Regions from separate parts of the Homo sapiens genome. Here region 2 is linked to region 1. The links come from fine-mapping of genetic effects on gene expression. Tissue or cell type: whole blood. Region 1 holds a variant in brackets; the other region holds the start of a gene. All regions are shown on one strand. Distances are between the middles of the regions.

Evidence for each region. PIP is the estimated chance that this variant, and not a neighbour inherited with it, causes the effect.
Region 2: TMCC1 starts here. The variant in region 1 is fine-mapped to the expression of TMCC1 in whole blood (INTERVAL, PIP above 0.99).

What each region holds. Positions count from the first base shown.
Region 1 is chr3:129,910,749-129,920,912 of GRCh38, reverse strand. No RefSeq gene overlaps it. Among named protein-coding and RNA genes, the nearest start is that of TMCC1-DT, 22 kb to the right of the region's middle. The variant T/G (reference allele first, on the strand shown) is at 5,631.
Region 2 is chr3:129,888,867-129,899,030 of GRCh38, reverse strand. It overlaps TMCC1 (transmembrane and coiled-coil domain family 1), which reads left to right and starts at 5,320. Exons shown (of 7, transcript NM_001017395.5): 1 at 5,320-5,537. It overlaps TMCC1-DT (TMCC1 divergent transcript), which reads right to left and starts at 5,160. Exons shown (of 3, transcript NR_037893.1): 1 at 5,104-5,160. RefSeq lists a silencer at 5,063-5,792 and enhancers at 5,154-5,945, 5,946-6,738.

The DNA of each region.
Region 1 (10,164 bases):
ATCCAGCACCCGTATGAAGCACCCATTCCGTGAAACACGCTAAATATTTTTATTTTATTATTATTTTTTTTGAGACAGGGTCTCACTCTGTTGTCCAGGCTGGAATGCAGTGGCACTATCTCAGCTCACTGAAACCACCACCTCATGGGTTGAAGCCATTCTCCTGCCTCAGCCTCCCGAGTAGCTGGGACTACAGGCGCATGCTGCTACGCCCAGCTAATTATTTGTATTTTAGTAGAGACGAGGTTTCACCATGTTGCCCAGGCTGGTCTCGAACTCCTGAGCTTAGGCAATCCACCCGTCTCAGCCTCCCAAAATGCTAGGATTACAGATGTGAGCCACCACGCCTGGCTGAAACACACTAAATATTTTCAATCATTTCTGTTTTTAATTTTTCTGGCAGTTATTCAAAACTCTAAATGTGAGTAAGCCCCCTACTTCTAGATTTGTAATTTCATAAAAGTTGAGCAATTAGCTCACTTGTACCATGCCCTGGCTACACTCATTGTAACTGTTTCTCATCTCCTGTAGCAAACTTCATTTAGAGGTCACCTTTATAACTCTGTACCTGTCTTCTCAGCTCTATTTCGGGAGCTATCACGGGGAAATGACATCTGCGTACCACTCCTAAGTCCCATAGCCTCTGACAGCTGTATCCGACAAGATCGGGTGCGTTCAGGCTGGTATGAGCGAAGACCCCGCTGATAACTTTACATGGCCTTTTCCCACCTATTGTCCAAATTCTGTCAACTCTAGCTTGTTTAAATGGTTTTATTTTTATATTTTCTGTAAATACAATTAAGCTTTTCATGCTTTGTGTGCTGATTCAGAAAAGTAAAATAAATAAGAAAAGTAAAATAAATAACTAGCATTTAGGTTAATATGATTACGTAACTTTCCCCCTATGGATCCAAGACATAAAACTGGACACAATGACTCCATACCAGCCCTGCATCAAACTGTTTCCTGTGAAAATGGGTTTTTAGATTTATCATCCATTATATGTTTAAAGTCATGCCTCATCTTAATTGGTCTCATGTTTGGTCTGACTTTCTAGCACAGATCTATTGTACTAGAATATGTAATTGGCTTACTTACATTTTTGACATAACAAGCATATGGATTCCCCCTCATTACTAAGAGTCCTAATTGTAGCCTCTTAGCTTAATTATAACCTGTTTAATACTAAATTCACTTTCTCTGTGAAATCTCTCTTCGTGGCGCTCCCCTTGAATTCTTGTTCTAAGAGAGAGGGAGAGAGAGAAAGAGAAGGAGAGAGAGAGAGAGAGAGAGAAGGAAGGAAGGAGAGAAGGGAGGGAGGGAGGAAGAAAGGAAAGAAAGAAGGAAAGAGAAAGATCAGCTTCTTTTCTGCCTTTCCTCCTTACCCCCTTTCCCTTTTCCTTACCTTCCTTTCCTTCTTTTTCCTTTTCCTTTCTTTTATTTTCTTTCTCTCTCTCTGTTTCTTTCCCTCCCTCCCTCCCACCCTCCGTCCCTCCCTCCTTCCCTCCTTTCCCTCCCTCCCTCTCTCTCTTTCTCTCTTTCTTTCTTTCTTTCTTTTTTTCTTTCTTCTTTCTTCAGTATTCACACCTGGGGGACCCTTAACCCCAAAGTGGATTTTATGGACAACAGCACACTGGGGAGACAAGGAGCCCCACAGCACTCCCACCCTCTCCCCAGGTCACTTCTTGCTTCCTGGTCCTGCTCTTTATTGGGGAAGGAGAATCGTATTTGACCAGTGGAACTCCAGGACAGTCCCTGGCCACCATCAGTAGTGGGCAGGGTCACAGCATGTTCTAGGCTGTGCACACTGAGCCACCGGCCATGCACAAGGGCAGGGCCTTCTGGACCTCCCTCAAACTTCTTAATAACACATGAGGAAGCTCCCTGATGGGAGCCACTCTGACCCCATGCCACTCTAACCCCAGCACAGTCTGGTTCCCAGGACTTCAGGATCCTCCTGGAGACCTCTCAGCATGATTAACACAGTCAGACGAGACCTGAAGGGGCCGCTGGTCCTTCTGAAAATGCTCACTGGGCAGTGTGAGTGTGGGGAGGCCATGCACAATGTGTGGGACTCTGCCTTGCACCTGCTCAGAGCCTCAGCCCTTCAGAGCCACTGGTAATGATTTTCTGTGGGTGGGGTCATCCTGATACTTCTCTGAGGTCTCTTTTCCTTTCAGTTTTTCTGAGTAACTGAGAGGATCACATGACTGCATACTGCCTAAACTAGGGTGTGCACAGCCCCCATTCTGTGCAGGGAGGGCGCAAAGCAGCAGATTGCCTGTGACTCATCTGCCACCTTTCCAATGCTACTACAAAATTTGCAAGAAACGGTAGTGTTATCAGGAATCACCTTTATTTAAAAAGATAAAGCAGGATTGCTGGGCACACGGAAGCGTGAGCATATCGCCCGGCTTCTCTCCACAGCTGTCGCCCGGCTTCTCTCCACAGCTGTTGGCGTCCACTGTCAGGTTTCCATGTTCTTGGACCTCAGGGCCTTCATCCTCTCCAATCTAAATGCAGAGAGACATTTGATACGGACTCTCTCAGTTGTTTTGCAAAATGCAACACACTCTCATTGACTCTGGTCACCCTGCTGTGCGCTAGATGTCAAAACCTCTTCCTCCTGTCCGGACTTTGGTCCTTTAACCGACAACCCTGATGGTCTGCAGGTCAGTGCTGGGTGGGGGATGAAGCAAGGCTTTCTGGAGGCCAGTGTGCTGAGCCCTGCAGTGTGAGGAGAGGTCGCCTAAGTAAGTAGGGACAAGGGCAGGAGGGTAGCCTCTGCAAAAGCTCAGGGATGACCGAGGGTGTCTTGCTGGAGTGATGTGCTAGTCTGAAGGTAGGACTGGGGCCAGGTTGGGAGAGCTCGAGTCCCAGGACAGAAGCTGAGCCTGTATTCTGAGGGCCGTGGGCACTGTGGAATAGTTCTGAGCCCCCTTGCTGGGCCACAGCCTTCAAACCCTGACTCTGCTCCTGACGTGGGAGTGGGCTCAACTGAACTTTACCACCACACCAGCCTCACTGCCTCCAGTCTCCCCCACCCACACCCCTCCATTCAGGCTCCCAAAGGGATCCAAGGGAAAGCCACCTCTGGGCTCCACCACCCAGCTGGTGGCCCTGAGAGCTTCAGAGGGAAGCCCTTCTCCTTGTCCACCAGGGCTCACCTGGGCAGCCCCACAGCCCTGCCTTTCAGACCACCCCATGTGCCCAGGTGGGTCACGTGATTCTTGAAAACAAAATGCTTGTTCCTTGGTGCCACAAGGAAAAATTAGCATTCAGACAAAAAGTTTTCTCAGCAAGGCAATTTTACTTTCTGCAGAAAGGATGCTGCCCATCAGCAATTTTGCCACAAGAGCACGATGAATAAAGAAAGGCAGGAATATTTATCCCTTACACACTGGGTCCTTACTGCTGTGTCCTCTCTTCGTTGCTTGGAGACGGACCTCACAATCTAAGCTAAACTCAATTGGCTAACAACTTAAAACTTTCCTAAATAGGTAAAGGCAATGGAGAACAAAAGGAAAAGAGGAAGTTGCTTGCAAAAGGTCTTAGAAAAGTAATAACATTTCCAAATAAGGAAGGAAGAGGAAGTTAGTCTTTAAAAGAAACTATTACTTTTAACATTTATTATTTATTCTTTAACAAGAAGGGAAACTTTGAAGAGGAACTTTTTATTTTCCACACCGTCATGTTTCCTACACACCGTCCCCACTGCCTAGAGTTCCCCCCTTACTCTCCTGCACTGAGTGACTTCCTGTCCCTTCAGTCCTAGCTGAGATATCCGGTACTCTGGGGAGCATCCCTGAGCCCTGGACACAGAGGAGCCCCTTCTGCCCTGGATCCCAGAACCACTTGTGCTTTCCTCCTATCACAGTGCAGAAACTCCCACCACACACACACACAAACACAAACAGACACACACACACACACACACACACACACACACACAGACACCGGCACACATATTCACACACACTTGCCACCATTTGGGGACATTGATTACTGCCTGCTGGACCACCCCTCTCCCACCCCAGCCTCTCAGGGAGCCCCAGGCAGAGGTGCTGCTATTAATAGTAGGGGCCCTGTAGGTGCATTGGAGGTAGGGAAGGGAAGGGCTCCCCAGGAATACCCCTGCCTGGATGACAGCCACCCCATGGGGGGCACGGCCACCAGGAAACTTAGGTCTTGAATAAGCGGAGGCAGCAGGTACAGGCTGGAAGGATAAGGTGGGGCCAGATTCCCAGGGTCCCTAAATGCCAGGATGAGGTGCTTCTATTGTCTCCTGGGGTGCAAGCTTTGGAAGAGGCGGGGCCCATGGGGGCAGCACTGGGGAGGCCGGCCTGGAGGGACATGGCCACTGAAGGGGTGCACCTGTCCCTGTCCCTGATGGCTCAGCCCTCACTGGCACCAGGAATCCCTTGGTGGGGAATGGGGGGTGTCATGGCCTCCTGCCTGGTGCCTGAATACCCCGACATGTTCCACCCAGGATCCTGCACTTCTTCCTTCTTTTGTTTTTTTTTTTGTTGTTGTTGTTGTTTTCAAGACAGAGTCTCACTCTGTCATGCAGGCTGGAGTGCAATGGTGTGATCTTGGCTCACTGCAACTTCCACTTCCTGGGGCCAAGCTATTCTCCTGCCTCAGACTCCTGAGTAGCTGGAATTACAGGCGTGCACCACCACGCCCAGCTCATTTTTTGTATTTTTAGTAGAGATGGGGTTTCACCATGTTGGCCAGGCTGGTCTCGAACTTTTGACTTCAAGTCATCTGCCTGCCTCAGCCTCCCAAAGTGCTGGGATTACAGGCGTGAGCCACCGCACCCGGCCTGTACTTCCTCCCTCTGCCCTAATGTCCCCCAATGATTGCTGAGTCACTCAGGCTTCCTCCCCTTGAAGTCTCTGCTCCCCTCAAGCTGCTCCCCCTTGCAGACTCCCCCCTTGTTTTTGTCACCCACACTGCACACCTTCTTGTCATTGACTCACCCTTGCTTTCCTTTTTTTTTTTTTTTTTTTTTTGTGAGACAGGATCTTGCTCTGTCACCCAGGCTGGAATGCAGTGGCACGATCATAGCTAACTGCAGCTTCAACCTCCCAGGCTCCAGTGATTCTCCCACCTCAGCCTCCTGAGAAGCTGGGACTACAGGCTCATGCCACCACACCTGGCTAATGTTTTGTATTTTTTATAGAGACAGGGTTTTGCCATGTTGCCCAGGCTGGTCTTAAACCCGTGGGCTCAAGTGATCCTCCCGTCTTGGCCTCCCAAAGTGCTGGGATTCCAGGCGGGAACCACCTACTGACTGTCTTCACATAGGCCATCACCAAATTAACTTCCTCTGGGGCAGGACAGGTGTGAAGTCGGTGAGGGGAAGCAGCAGGGTGTGAGGAACACAGATGGAAGTGCTGTGCTAAACGGACCTGGCCCCTAGGTGCAGTGTCGGGGAGTAACAGGGCATGGTGGAGACTGTGGCAAACGAGTGCACGGGCCAGGTCTAAGGGCAGCCACCATGCACCTCTAGCTGATTTCTGTTGTTGTTTTTAACACACACGTGTGCGCGTGTGTGCGCTCTGTCCCAGGTTTGAGCAACCACTGATCTACTTTGTGTCTTTATGGATTTGGCTGTTCTGAACATC[T/G]TATGTAAATGGAATCATACAACGTGTGGTCTTCTGTGATTGGCTCTCTGCACTTCACACGTTTTCCAGTTTCATCCACATTGCAGCTTGTGTCAGTATTTCAGTCCTTTCTATGGCCAAATAGTAATCCATTGTATGGCTATGCCACATTTTGTTCATTCACTCATCATTGTTGGAGATTTAGGTAGTTTTCACCTTTTGACTATTATCAATAATGCTGCTGTGAACATTTGTACACAAGTTTTTGTGTGGACATGTTTTCATTTCGGTTGGGTATATACCCAGGAGTGGAATTGCTGGAGTCATGTGGAAACTCTGTATTTACCTTTTTGAGGAACGGTCAGACTATTTTCCCAAGTAGCCACACCATTTCACATTCCCACCAACAGTGTATGAGCATTCCAATATCATGACATGACAACTCAATGCAGTCATTGATCCTGGCCTGGATCCAGTATTGGAGGGGAAAAAAAAAAAGCTGGAGGGTTGCCAAGACAACTGGCCACATTTGGAATATGAACTGTCAATGAGAAGGTATCATTATCAATAATAAATCTACTGAATTTAATAACTGCACTGCAGTTATGTAAGAGAAAGTCCCTGCTCTTAGGAAATACACTGAACTGTGAAGGGTAAAGGGACATGATATATGCAATGTACTCTCAAATGGCTCAGAAAAAAAAGAGAGAAAGAATGACTAAATAAGTGCGGCAACATGGTAGAAATTGCAGATTCTGGGTTAAGGGTATACAGGAGTTATTTGGCTTACTCCTGAAAATATCCTGTAAATTTAAAATTCTTTTCAAAATAACAAGTAAAAATTTATTTTATTTTATTTTATTTTTTGAGACAGAGTCTTGCTCTGTTGCTAGGCTGGAGTGTAGTGGCAAGATCTCGGCTCACTGCAACCTCCAACTCCCTGGTTCAAGGGGTTCTCTTGCCTCAGCCTCCCGAGTATCTGGGATTACAGGCATGTGCCACCAAGCCCAGCTAATTTTTGTATTTTTAGTAGAGACGGGATTTCACCATGTTGGCCAGGATGGTCTCAATCTCCTGACCTCATGATCTGCCCACCTCAGTCTCCCAAAGTGCTGGGATTACAGGCGTGAGCCACCGCCCCCGGCCAATAACAAGTAAAAATTTTTTAAAAGTTTCTAAAACCACAGAGCTGCTAAGGGTAGAGCTAAGATTGATGAATTGATAGAGTTTTGAGACAGGGTCTCTCTGTTGCCCAGACTGGAGTGCACACTGCAGCCTCAACCTCCTGGGCTCAAATGGTCCTCCCATCTCAGCCTGCTGAGTAGCTGAGACTACAGGTGCACGTCACCATGACTGGCTAATTTTTTGGTATTTTTTGTAGAGGTGGGATTTTGCCATGTTGCCTAGGCTGCTCTCAAACTTTTGGGCTCAAGCCATCCACCCGCCTCGTCCTCCCAAAGTGCTAGGATTACAAGTGTGAGGCACCATGCCAGGCCTAGAGCTGAGATTTAAATCCAAGCTGTTTGGCATTCAGGAACTCAATGTTATCTCTCTAATCAGGTAGCTCAACAGCTCTCATTTTACAGAGGAGGACACTGAGGCCCAGCCTGTTAGTTGTGGCATCAGGACTGGTTTGTGGGGGCCCAGCCTGGTGAGCTTCCACCACTCTCTTGGACTGTCCTGTTGACAGGGCTGAAGGTCCTGGCTTGAGACAGGACCTGATGTTTCTCTGGTGCCCCTCCCACCACTTGCTGAGTTAGTTGGATCTCAAAGGTAGGATCCTGCTGACCTTGTCTCTGGATTACTGGACAACAGGGACTGAGAAAGTTATGTTTAATTAGAAGAGACACAGGCCAGCCTTCATGGACTTAGTTGTATCCCTCTCTGTCCCACCACTGTGACATCTGTGATATTGTCTTCCCTGCCCAGCACCCCCTTTTCTTCTGGGAACAACACCTTCTTTTGGGGACCTGTTCCTTTCTGCTTTCTAATCACTATGTAATTTCAGTGGGTGTTATTGGTCATACGCTCATGGCCACAGTTGATCGGTCTAGGGATGGGCATTGTACTCAAAATGGGCCAATCAGAGCCTTTCCCTCAGATTTGCTGGACTGGACTGACGCAGGATACAGGTTTTCTAGCATGAGGCTCAGGAACTAATGGCAGCCACATCCCCCATTATGGGGAGAAAGCTGATCTGATAAAACTAGGAAAAGCAGAGAGGGGAGAAAGTGTCCAAGGGCCCACTTGTCTCTGAGGCCCTCCCTGCACTTCCCAAGGCTATGTTCCATAAGCACACCAGCATTCTCCCAATAAATGGCTCTGATTTTGCATATGCCTATTTGCTTTGGATTTCTATCACTTGAAGACAAACTAGATCAATAAGCCTGAGATCCCAATCACTAGCAATCCTGACCGTGAGGCCCCGGCAGGGAGGATGTCGGAGTTCTGTTCCCCTGGAGCTGACTGGCTCACTGAGTGGTCTCGAACTCCTGAACTCATGTGATCCACCCACCTCGGGCTCCCAAAGTGCTGGGAGTACAAGCGTGAGCCACCGTGCCCAGCCACAAATCTTAAGAATACATTTCTGGCTGGGTGCGGTGGCTCACGCTTGTACTCCCAGCACTTTGGGAGGCTGAGGTGGGCAGATTACCTGAGGTCACGAGTTCGAGACCAGCCTGGCCAACATGGCGAAACCCTGTATCTACTGAAAATACAAAAATTAGAATTAGCCAGGTATGGTGGCATATGCCTGTAATCCCAGCTCCTTGGGAGGCTAAGGCACGAGAATTGCTTGAATCTTGGAGGCGGAGGTTGCAGTGAGCTGAGATGGTGCCATTGTACTCCAGCCTGTGCAACAGAGCGAGACTCCATCTCAAAAAAAAAAAAAAAAATTTCTGTAGACATACTTACCTGTGTAACCACCACCCAGATCAAGACACAAAACATTTCCAGCACCCAAGAAGACTACTGTGTACTTCCCAGTCAGTGTGCTTGCCCCCGCCCACTACTGTTCTAGCCTACCTCTGTCATCATAGGCTAGTTTTGCCTATCCTTGAACTTCATGTAATGGAAATGCACAGTGTGTGCTGTTTTGTGTCCAGCTTCTTCTACTCAGCACAATATTGGGGATGCCTAATCTGTAATACTGGCCCCTATACTCTTCATCTTCATGCTGCTCCTGGAATGATAGCTAGCATTTGTTAGGTATCTGGCACTGTTCAAGATCTTTACATTATATATTCATTTGCTCCTCATAGTACACCTATGAGGTAAGCACAAACGAAGACACTGGGGCACAAAGAGGTGAGGGAATTTGCCCAAGACACAGATCTGAAGTGGCATAATTAGGATGGGAAGGCAGGCCATCCACCTCCAGTCCATGCTCACACCTAACAGCTAGGGGATCTCATATGCACTTTAAGGACTGAGAGAGACTCTCCAGGTAGAGCTGAGTTTTTGGAGGGTCAAATGGGAAAACAGAAGTAAAAATGTACTAAAAAGAGAAAAGAGTTATACAAATATAAGTCAGGATTATACTTCATTTAATATGACTAGGACCACCATTCACTCATTTGTAAATCTTAATAAATATTAATTAAATAAATATTTAATTAATATTTATCAATATTTATTGATTTAATTAATATTTAATTTAATATTTATTAATTTAATTAATATTTATTGAGCTCCTAAAGATACATGGAGGTCAGTGGGTTCAGAATGACAGAGACAAAGTCCCTGCACTGGTGGAGCTTACAGTCCAGAGAGGAAGGCAGAAATGTAAGGGGAAGTTATGGGTATGTTGAGCTAAGAGGAAATTCAGAGTGTTTTGAGAGAATGTCATAAGAGCAGCTGACTTTGTGGGGTCAGGGAAGGCCACCCTGAGGAAATGACATTCAAGCTGAGACCTGAACCATTTAAGCCAACTCTGTTGGAGAGGAAGGAGTATCAGGAACAGGGAATAGCATAAGCAAAGGCCCTGAAGTAAGAAAAACTAGCACAATCATTAGAAATTTTAAGTCATATCACTTCTTGGCCTTTTGGCTAAGATGAAGTGTCGAAATTTTTTTTTTTTTTTTTTTTTGAGATGGAGTTTGTGGCCCAGGCTGGAGTGCAGTGGCATGATCTCTGCTCACTGCAACCTCCGCCTCCCAGGTTCAAGCGATTCTCGTGCCTCAGCATCCCAAGTAGCTGGGATTACAGGTGCAAACCACCACACCTGGCTAATTTTTCTATTTTTAGTAGAGGCAGGGTTTTACCATGTCGGTCAGGCTGGTCTTGAACTCCTGACCTCAAGTGATATGCCCATCCCGGCCTCCCAAAGTGCTGGGATTACAGGCATGAGCCACTGGGCCCAGCCGAGAAATTCAAAGTCACTAGTATATGATAGTTTTCTATACAACAGTTGTTTGTCTTACTTTCATGGAAATAAAATTCTTTATGGCAGTTTCAATGCTTCCTTGCTCCCACATATGATGATTACTAGATGTAACAGTCTTTTTTGGTCACTCTAGACCTTAATTCGTTTCTACTAACTTTTATTTGGTGAAGC
Region 2 (10,164 bases), 22 kb after region 1:
CTCGACCTTGTGGGCTCAAGCAATCCTCCCACCTCAGCCTCCTGAGTATCTGGGATTATAGGCACACCATCATGCCCTGCTAATTTTTAAAAAAACTTTTGTAGAGATGAGGTCTCACTATGTTGCCCAGGCTTGTCCCAAACTCCTGGGCTCAAGTGAACCTCCTGCCTCAGCCTCTCAAAGTGTTGGGATTACAGGCATGAGCCACTATGCTGGGCCTGAAGGTGTTTTTGTGGATATAACTAAAATTCATAAATTGTTTTTAAGTAAGAAAGATTATCCTAGATAATCTGGTTGGTCTGGATTCAATCAGTAGAAAGTCTTTAAAAGCAGAGTTGAAGAAGAAGAAATTCTGAAGAAGAAATTCTGCCTGTGGACTGTGACTTCAGCCCTTGCCTGAAATTTCCAGCCTATTCTCCTGCCTGCATTATAGATTTCCAACTTGCCTAATCAGCCCCCCTCCCCCCACATAAGTCAATTCCTTGAAGTAAATCTCACTGTGTATCTCCTACTGGTTCTGCTTCTCTGTTGGAACCCTGACTGATACCGATTTGGTACTGAAAGTGGCTCTAGAGGAATGGAATCTTGAGGATGAGTTTTCTGAATTTGTTCTGCGTTTTCTTGAATTTCTTGAATTTCATGAATTCTTATATGATTACATTTAAAGGCACTAGTGACTCTATTTCCAGTGGTGAAGAGGGCACTGGGAGTCCATGGCATGATAAAGCATCGAATACGCCTAATGAAACACCTATAGAAAGCAAGGTTATGCGTGACTGTGTATTTGTTACCTTAGAATATTTTAGTTAAACCAAGGAACAGAATGGCATTGGCCATAACTGCACTGAAGAAAGCAGGCAAAGAAAAGGATGAGCTCAGGGTTTCAGATTCCCACCTTTCAGTGTTTAAAGCTTTAAGCTATGCATAGATGACCTGGAAGCTTCCATATCTGTCCTGAAAGGAACCCTTAGGGCCACAATTTCTGAAAACCAACCCAGAGTCTCATTCTGCAAGGGGCTGATACAGATGCTGTTTAGAGCCTTTGGCAGGCCACTGTAGGTGAATCACGCTGCAGACCCTTAAGATTTTGGAGCAAAGCCCTGCAGAAGAGTACTGTCCTCTTGAGAAACAACGTTTGGCTTGCTGGGCCTAAGCAGAGACTGAACAGTTAACCGTGGGTCATCAAGTTACCATGTGACCTGAGCTGCTCATCATGAACTAAGTGTTATCTGATCCACCAAGCTATAAAGTTGTGCACTCACAGCAACACTCCATTATCAAATTGAAGTGGTATATATGAGATTGGGCTCAAATGGGCCCTGAAGGCATAGGTAAGTTGCACGAGGAAGTGGCCCAAATATCCATGGCCCCAACTCCTGCTACATTACCTTCTCTCTCCCAGCCTGCACCTATGGCGCCATGGGGCATTCCTTATGACCAGTTGACTGAAGAAGGGAAAACTCAGTTGTGGTTCATAGCCCAGGTTTATGATGGTTCTGCACAATATGCAGGCACCAGTGAAAATAAAACTAGTGTCCCTTTCTGGGACATCCCTGAAGAATAATGGTGAAAAAAAAATCCCCCAGTTGGCAGAACTTTGAAGAGTGTACTTGGTTGTTCATTTTTCCTGAAAGTAGAAACGTCCAGAGGCTCTTCTGACCAAGAGGTCTTAGTTCCAAAAGAAGGAATGCTTCCACCAGGAGACCCAACAACATTTCCATTGAATTGGGAGTTGAGGTGGTCACCTGGCCACCTTGGGTCTTTCATGCCTCTGAATCAACAGGTAAAGTGGGAAGTTCCTCTACTGGCTGAGGTGACTAATCCTGATTACTAAGCAGGAAATTCGGTTGCTACTACAAGATGGAGACGTATTAATGATAGGTAACTTTATATTGCAGTATTAAGTTATAAGACATCAAAGGTGGAGAAGAAACATCACTCAAGGACTTTGCATCCCCTTGGGAAAAGTGTTGTTATGTTTTCAATAGTATGCAGGATAGTTATATCATGTTAAGTGAAAGTATGACTTTGTTATTGTCTTTAAATTTTTTTTTTTTTTGAGACATAGTCTCACTCTGTCACCCAGGCTTGAATGCAATGGCATGATCTTGGCTCACTGCAACCGCCGCCTCCCAAGTTCAAGCGATTCTCCTGCCTCAGCCTCCTGAGTAGCTGGGATTAGAGGCATACGCTGCCACATCCGGCTAATTTTTGTATTTTTAGTAGAGATGGGGTTTCACCATGTTGGCCAAGCTGGTCTCAAACTCCTGACCTCATGATCTGCCCACATTGGCCTCCCAAAGTGCTGGGATTACAGGCGTGAGCCACTGCGCCCAGCCAAAGACTTTTTTTTTTTAAGAGATATGGTCTTGCTGTGGTACCCAGGCCGGAGTACAGTGGTGCGATCATAGGTCACTGCAACCTTGAACTCCTGGGCTCAAGGGATCCTCCTGCCTCAGGCTCCCCAGTAGCTAGGACTACAGGTGTACACTCCCACACTGGCTAATTAAAAAAAATTTTTTTTGTAGAAATGGGGTCTCATTAGGTTGCCCAGGCTGGTCTTGAACTCCTGGGCTGAAGCGATCCTCTTGCCTTGGCCTCCCAAAGTGCTGGGATTACAGGGTCCCTGGTGTGTTATTGTCAGCCTTTAGAGATCAAGTATGGTTAAGGAGATGTGTAGGAGTGTGATTGCTGGGTCATCGGTCTTAATTTTAGCTATCCTAATGAGAGTGTTGTGGTTTTAAATGGAAAAATCCCTAGTTGACTAAAGATGTTGGTAATCTCTTCATTGCTTATAGGCCATTTTTGTATCTTGTGAACTATCTACAAGATATAAAAAAAGCCTTTGCCCATTGGTTTATTGGGCTGGCTTATTACTCATTTATAACAGTTCTTTATGTATTCTGGATACAAGACTTTTGTCTAATGCTTTCTATTGCAAACTCTCCACCTGTGGCTTGCCTTTTCATTTTCTTAATGTTGTCTCTCAAAGAGTACCAGTTTTTAATTTTGATAGAGTTCAACTTATCAATTGCTTTCTTTTTTTTTTTTTTTTTTTTGAGACAGGGTCTCACCCTGTCACTCAGGCTGGAGTGCAGTGGCGCCATCTCAGCTCACTGCAACCTCCGCCTCCCAGGTTCAAGTGATCCTCCTTCCTCAGCCCCACAAGTTAGCTGAGACTGCAGGTACGTGCCAACAAGCCCAGCTAACTTTTGTATTTTTTGTAGAGATAGCATTTTGCCATGTTGCCCAGGCTGGTCTTGAACTCCTGAGCTCAAGTGATCTGCCTGCCTTGGCCTCCCAAAGTGCTGGGATTACAGGTGTGAGCCAGGCCATGAATCACTTTTTATGGTTCATATTTTTTGTGTCCTAAGAAGTCTTTGCCTATCCCAAGGTCACAAATACTTTTTCTATGTTTTCTTCTAAAATTTTCTTTTATAGGTTTAGCTTTTAAATTTAGGTTTATCATCCATTTTGAGTTACCTCAGGTGGCTCCTTCAGTGCTTCTGAAATCTATAAATGCATCCTCCACCAACCTCAAATCTAAGTAAACCTTGCCACCTCCTTCTCCTTCACTCCTCATTCAATTTATTGCCAAGTCCTGTCCATTTTACCACTACATTAGCACTCTTCTCTGTCACTACCCTCCTACTTTGCCTTGACTATGTGGCCAGTGGCCTCCTAACTGGCTTCCCGGCCCCAGCTTTGAGACTCCCATCAGACCACTCTTCACGTTGCTATCTAAGTAACTTAAAAACAGACATAATGGGCTGGGGGCAAGGTGGCTCACACCTGTAATCCCAGCACTTTGGGAGGCCGAGGTGGGTGGATCATGAAGTCAGGAGATTCAGACCATCCTGGCCAACATGGTGAAACCCCGTTTCTACTAAAAATACTAAAAAAATTAGCTGGGTGCAGTGGCGTGCACCTGTAGTCCCAGGTACTAGGGAGGCTGAGGCAGGAAAATCACTTGAACCCGGGAGGCAGAGATTGCAGGGAGCCGAGATCGCGCCACTGCACTCCAGTCTGCCTCTCAAAAACAAAAAACAGACATAATGATCAAGTTATTTCCCCTGCAACCCTGCTGAAAAAAACCTGAATAGCTTCTACCAAGCACTCAGATTAAAGTCCCAAATCCGGCCGGGTGTGGTGGCTCATGCCTGCAATCCCAGCACTTTGGGAGGCCGAGGCGGGCAGATCACAAGGTCAGGAGTTCCAGACCAGCCTGGCCAAGATGGCGAAACCCCATCTCTACTAAAAATACAAAAATTAGCCAGGTGCGCTGGCGTGCGCTGGTAGTCCAGCTACTCCGGAGGCTGAGACAGGAGAATCGCTTGAACCCAGGAGGCGGAGGTTGCAGTGAGCTGAGATCGAGCCATTGCACTCCAGCCTGGGTGACCTGGGTGACAGAGTGAGACTCTGTCTCAATAAATAAATAAATAAATAGGTCCCCAATCCTCACCTGTTCTCGCCTACCTCTTCCCACACTCGCAGTCTACTCCACATTCAATATTCTTTAGCGCTCCCCATTCTGGCCATGCCAAGACCTCACCCCTTGGAGCAACTAACTCCTCCCAACTCAATTCCTCAGATTCTACCCTCTTCATCCTCAACTAAATCAATTCCCCCATAAAGATTCTCTTAGTACCATATACCTCTCAGAAGATTTTTACTAATTGAAAACTTAATTTTGTCTGATTCTCCCATGAATGTTTTCCTTCTCCACCAGATCTCAAACTTCATGAGACCAGGGACTCCGTTGACCCCATATGGTACTCCCAGCTCCTTGAACACGGAAGAAGCCTCATTACATAAGTAATAAAAATAAAATAAATTAGGAAAATGGGAATTATAAAGGGATGGGCTGGTGGCTGCTTACAATCCCTTCAGTGGTAATACCTGGTGCAAAGTAATGAGTCTCTGCCCTTTTCCAAGCAGCCTGCTAGGTGGAATGAAGGAAGGCCTTGCGACTCAAATAGGGAGAACAAACGTGTGATCCAGAGCGGCGGGCAGAAATCCGACGAAACCCCATATTACTCAGGGGCGTTGCTCCTAGGGCGAGGGTGGCTCGGTTCCTAGAGCTTTTTGAGAGGAGGAGCTTACCTGGAGCAACTCAGCACTACCTGCAGCGGCGCAGCTCAACCAGCCCAGAGACCGCGTGGGAAGGCGGGCTAGGGGAGGGGCCACGCCTTCCAGGGCCCATCCCCGCCCCTGCGGCGTGCGCGCGCCCGTCCGCCCGCTCCCTTGCGCGTGCGCCGCCGGCCGGGGGCGGAGGTTGTGGGCGGTGGCGGCTGTGGCGGGGGCGCGCGCGCGCTCGCTCTCTCGCGCCGGTTCGCCCTCCCGCGCCGGGGCTGAGGCGGCGGCGGCGGTGGCGGTGACTGAGGCGGCGGCGGCTGAGGCGGCGCGGGGGGAGGGTCGGGAGGGGGGGGTGGTTGTGGGGGATGGACCGGGTGCGGCGGCCGCAGTGGAAGGAGCAGGCGCTTGAGCTCGAGCGACGGCGCTGGCGGAGACGCCGGCTGCTCCTCCCCTCCCCGCCGGTGAGTGAGCGCCCCCGCCCCGGACGCTGGCGGCGGTCGCGGCCCCCTCACGGCCCTCCGCGGTGGGTGGGGACAGTCGTGAGGGAGCGTGGCCTGGCGGCGCAGCGGACGCGGGCCTGGCCTCCCGCTCGCGGCCTGTCGGGGCTGGGACCTGCCGTCGCCCCCGTTCGAGGTTGAAGCCCCGGGCCTAGGACTCGACCCCCAGCATCCCACGGGGCCTCTTTCCTTTCCCGGCTCATTCCGCTGTCATTTTGACCTGGGGTTCCCCTCCAGCCCCTCGCCTCGTTCCCTTCCCAGCATCCCAGGGCCGAGGTGAGGGAGGGGCGTGTGAGAAGTCGGGCCGAGGCCCGAGGGACTGTTTAGGAGCCGGTTCCCGTCGGAATCTGGGGTTTTAGGAGCCCTCGATCGCCATGGCGTCCCAGAAGTTAGCCACCAGGACTCAGCCATTTCCACCTGAAACCAGTTTTGCACCTATTGTTTTGATTTTGAACTGTCTTTCGAGGGGAGGAGGGAGCCCGGCGTACTGGGGAGAATATGTAGTGGGAGGTGGGATGTGAGGAGGAGCTGGCTGGGCTTGGTCTCGGCCTCAGGATGCCCCCTGTTAACCCCTGTAGGATAGGGGAAAGAGGTGCAGCGAGTTGCACCTTCCCTAAAGGGCCAGAGATTCGTTTATAGCTTGCGAATCTCTGCTTTTTCAGCCTCGGTAAAGGGGTATCATTTGTGGTTGGTTTGGTTCGTCCCTTAACAACATTCTTGGTGAGGAATCCCCAGGTGAATCTGCCACGGAGTGAAGCAGCCCACTTGAGCTGTTGGCTACCCCCGGCCCCCGCAACGCCCGTTGGCTTTTGTGACACGTTACACGTTAGTGTTGGTAGAGCCTAGCCGTCAGAGGTACCTGTACCATAAGCATCTCTACGAAAGGTGTGAATTCCTAAATTAGCTTATTCTGTTCTTAAAAAAAAAAAATCCAGGGCATAAATATCAGATAGCTGCTTTAAAATAAAACAAAACTTTGATTTGTTCCAGGAGGTAGATACATTTTTTTCTCTGTATATTAGGAGATTGAAACTCAAATTGTGAGTAGGTGGTAGTTTTACTAGTGTCATGTGACAAAACGATGCTTATAGATGGGATTTTAACTTAATAACCCTGTCCTCTACCAACAGAGTTGGCTTGTATTTTTTTGCAATCACCCACTCTCTGGCTAGTGTAGAAAGATTAAAAAGCTGCTTCTGGTCTGTGGGTGGTAACCTTTTAATTTCTGAAGAGTTTTGAGCTGCTTATAGATTGCTGATCAGCAGCATAGGAAAATTTTAGACGTTAAAAATTCATTAGCATGTGATGTAGAACTGTTATAATTATGAGCATTGATTAAGATTTGGTATGGTGTAGGTGCTGTGTACTGTGTATAAGAATGAGATTTCTCAGAGCATTTGCATCTTAAGATAAACAGAAGCACAGACCGCTGACAGTGTTGGGACACCTTGCAGAAGGACTCTTTTATGAGCACAAAAGACCTGTAGTCTACAATTTGATGAAGAACCCCAGTGCCCTAGACTAGTTGGTGACCAACCACCATTACTTTAAACTGGGCCTTCTTGATAGTAGAATATTTCCCCTTTTCTGCAAGACTGCTTATGCCTCTCATAAATGTGCAGAACATATAATGGCTCAGGGCTTAGGTTTAAGCTCCTCAGAGTGGCATTTATGGATCATTCATTAATTCATCAAATGTTTATTGAGCCCTTACTTTGTTCCAGGATGTTTTCTAAGTACTGGGCTACATTGTTGGGACAAAACAGACAAGGCCTCTTCCCTAATTAAGCTTTATTCTGTATGTATGGGAATGAGGAATATACAACAAACAAGCAAATAGGATCATTTCAGATAATGATATAAATCAGTGGTTAGTAAGCTTTTTTTGGTAAAGGACCAGGAAGTACAGTACATACCAGGGTTTTTGGGCCATATGATCTCTTTTGCAACTACTCAATTCTGTTTTAGTACAAAAGCAGCCACAGACAGTACGTGAACAAATATGTTTATATTCCAGTTAAACTTGGGACACTGAAATTTGAATTTCATAAAATTTTCACATGTCACAGAATATTAATGAGTTTTTAAAAATATTTTCCCCTAGCCATTTAAAAATGTAAAACCATTCTTAGCCATATAAAACGGGGCAAGGTGGATTTGGCCTATAGATTATAGTCTGGCCTTTTATAGAAAATGTTTGCTGACCCCTAATATGAATTATGAAGAAAATAAAACAAGCTGATGTGACAAGTGAATGACTGAAAGGTGGGTGGAGGGTTACTTAGTGAGAGGAGGCCTCATTAAGGAGAAGGTATTTGAGTTGTGACCTGAAAAATGGTAGCGCTTTCCTGGTAAATGAAACAGTGAGTGCAAAGGTCTGCAGGTGCAGATGAGCTGCTCTTGTTTTCCAGTGTTGAACTTCCCCACATAACATGTCATTCTTACATTTTATGTAAATACATTTTATGTCTTTGTTAGAATGTTGTTCTTCATGTAATAGGATGGTACCTTTCCGTTTCCTCTTCCTGATCCTGCCTTACAGTACCCATGGAGTAAGACTGCAGTGGAGTTGCACCTCATCCCAGGGTTAGGTCCTCAAGTTAGTGCATGAGGCAAAAATCATGTAAGATGAAAACTCTTCTGGAAAATTCCATAAATTGCTCAAAAAGTATGGTCTGCATGTTTTTGTATGTATAGTTGTATAAAATTCTTACGAATATGAAAGGCTGAGAGCCACAGAGCTTGACTGAGGGAAAGAGCAAGAGGAAATAAATTGTTATATAGGTATCTGGGCCTTCAGACTGTTTGGCTTTTTAAAACTGCTCTGGAGTCCCTATCAGAGAGTGGGGGATGGTATAGAATTTTGACATGTTCCTGTTTCCATGCAGGGTTTAATTCTATTTTTATGTTAAGCCTCTATTACATTAATACATGCTCATAGATGTGTTGCGAATATTAAACAAGATAATGTATTTGAAAGAGCCCGGCACTTAAGATAGTCAGTAAACATTTGCAGAATTAGAATCTGATTTTTACTTCTTTGGGCTCACATACATACTGTCCTTTGAAAAGTTGTAGAGAACTTAGCCACCTGCTTCCTGTCTATCCATATTGGCATTTCCTGTTGTGGCTCCACTGAACAGCTGTCACTCTCTTTGTCCTTGAGCATTGGTCACATTTTGCCAGAGGTTGGCTTGTAAGTTAAATGGGTATAGGTGTAACTCTGTTAGTTCTGCCACATGACCCTTAAAGTGTTTGAGCACTGCTATTATGTCTCCTATTTAAGTCTTCACTTTTCAGAGCTGAATGTTTTTATTTTTCTTTTTTTTAAAGATATTATGGAGAGAGATGGGGTCTCATATGTTGCCTAGGCAAACTCCTGGCCTCAAGTGATCCCCCTTGCCTTGGCCTCCAAAAGTGCTGGGTTTATAAGCATGAGCCACCATGCCCCAGCCATTTTAATTTCTGTTAGCTTTTTCTTATTTCTTCACCCTTCTGGTTGTTGTGAGCTTAGTTTATTCTTTTTTTTTTTTTTTAACTTTGCTACTCTGAAGTATATTTTAAGGTACAAATTCAAGTTTTATCTCCTTGACCAAATCTTTCCTGATAATTCTAGACCTTCTTTATATTCTTAATATAGTTTTATCTTTACTCTTCAATTTAATTTTTTCTTATTTTTGTATTTTATACTAGTTTCATGAGCATTTGTCTTCACTCTGCGACAACAAGCTTCTTGAAGGCAAAGACCATATTTTAAGTATCTTTTGTGTCCTAGATGCACTGAGTAAAATTCCAGGGATGCCGTTGATCATAAATTTGTTATAATTTTTAAAAATAGACTTTAAAATTTAGATTTACAGAAACATTGCAAAGATACTGCAGAGTTCCTGCCTATCCTACACTGTTTCCCATATTATTAACGTCTTACATCCCTGTGATCATTTGTCTGTATTAATAAACCAGTATTGATACATTATCACAGAGACCATACTTTATCAGGTTTCCACAGGTTTTTTCCTTAATGTTCTTTCACTATCCCAGGATCCCATCCACAATACCACATTACATTTAGTAATTATGTCTCCTTAGCTCCTCTTGGTTGTGACAATTTCTCAGACTTTCCCTGTATTTAGTGACCTTGGCAGTTTTGAACATTACTGGTCAGGTTTTGTTTGTTTGTTTTTTTGAGACAGGATCTCCCTCTGTCACCAAGACTGGAGTGCAGTGGAACGATCTCATCTCACTGCAGCCTCAACACTCTGGGGTCAAGTGATCCTCTGACCTCAATGTCCGGAGTAGCTGGGCCCAGAGATGTGTGCCATCATGCTCTGCTAATTTTTGTACTTTTTGTAGAGATGGGGTTTCACCATGGTGCCCAGGCTGGTCTCGAACTCCTAGAACCAAGCAATCCACCCTCCTCAGCTTCCTAAAGTGCTGGGATTACAGGCGTGAGTCACTGTGTCCAGCCGTGGTCAGGTATTTTTATAGAACGTTCTTTGGGATTTATCTGATGTTTTCATTGTGGTTAGGCCAAGAATGTAATATGCTTTTGGAAGGAAGACCACAGGGCTAAAGTGTCATTCTCATCACA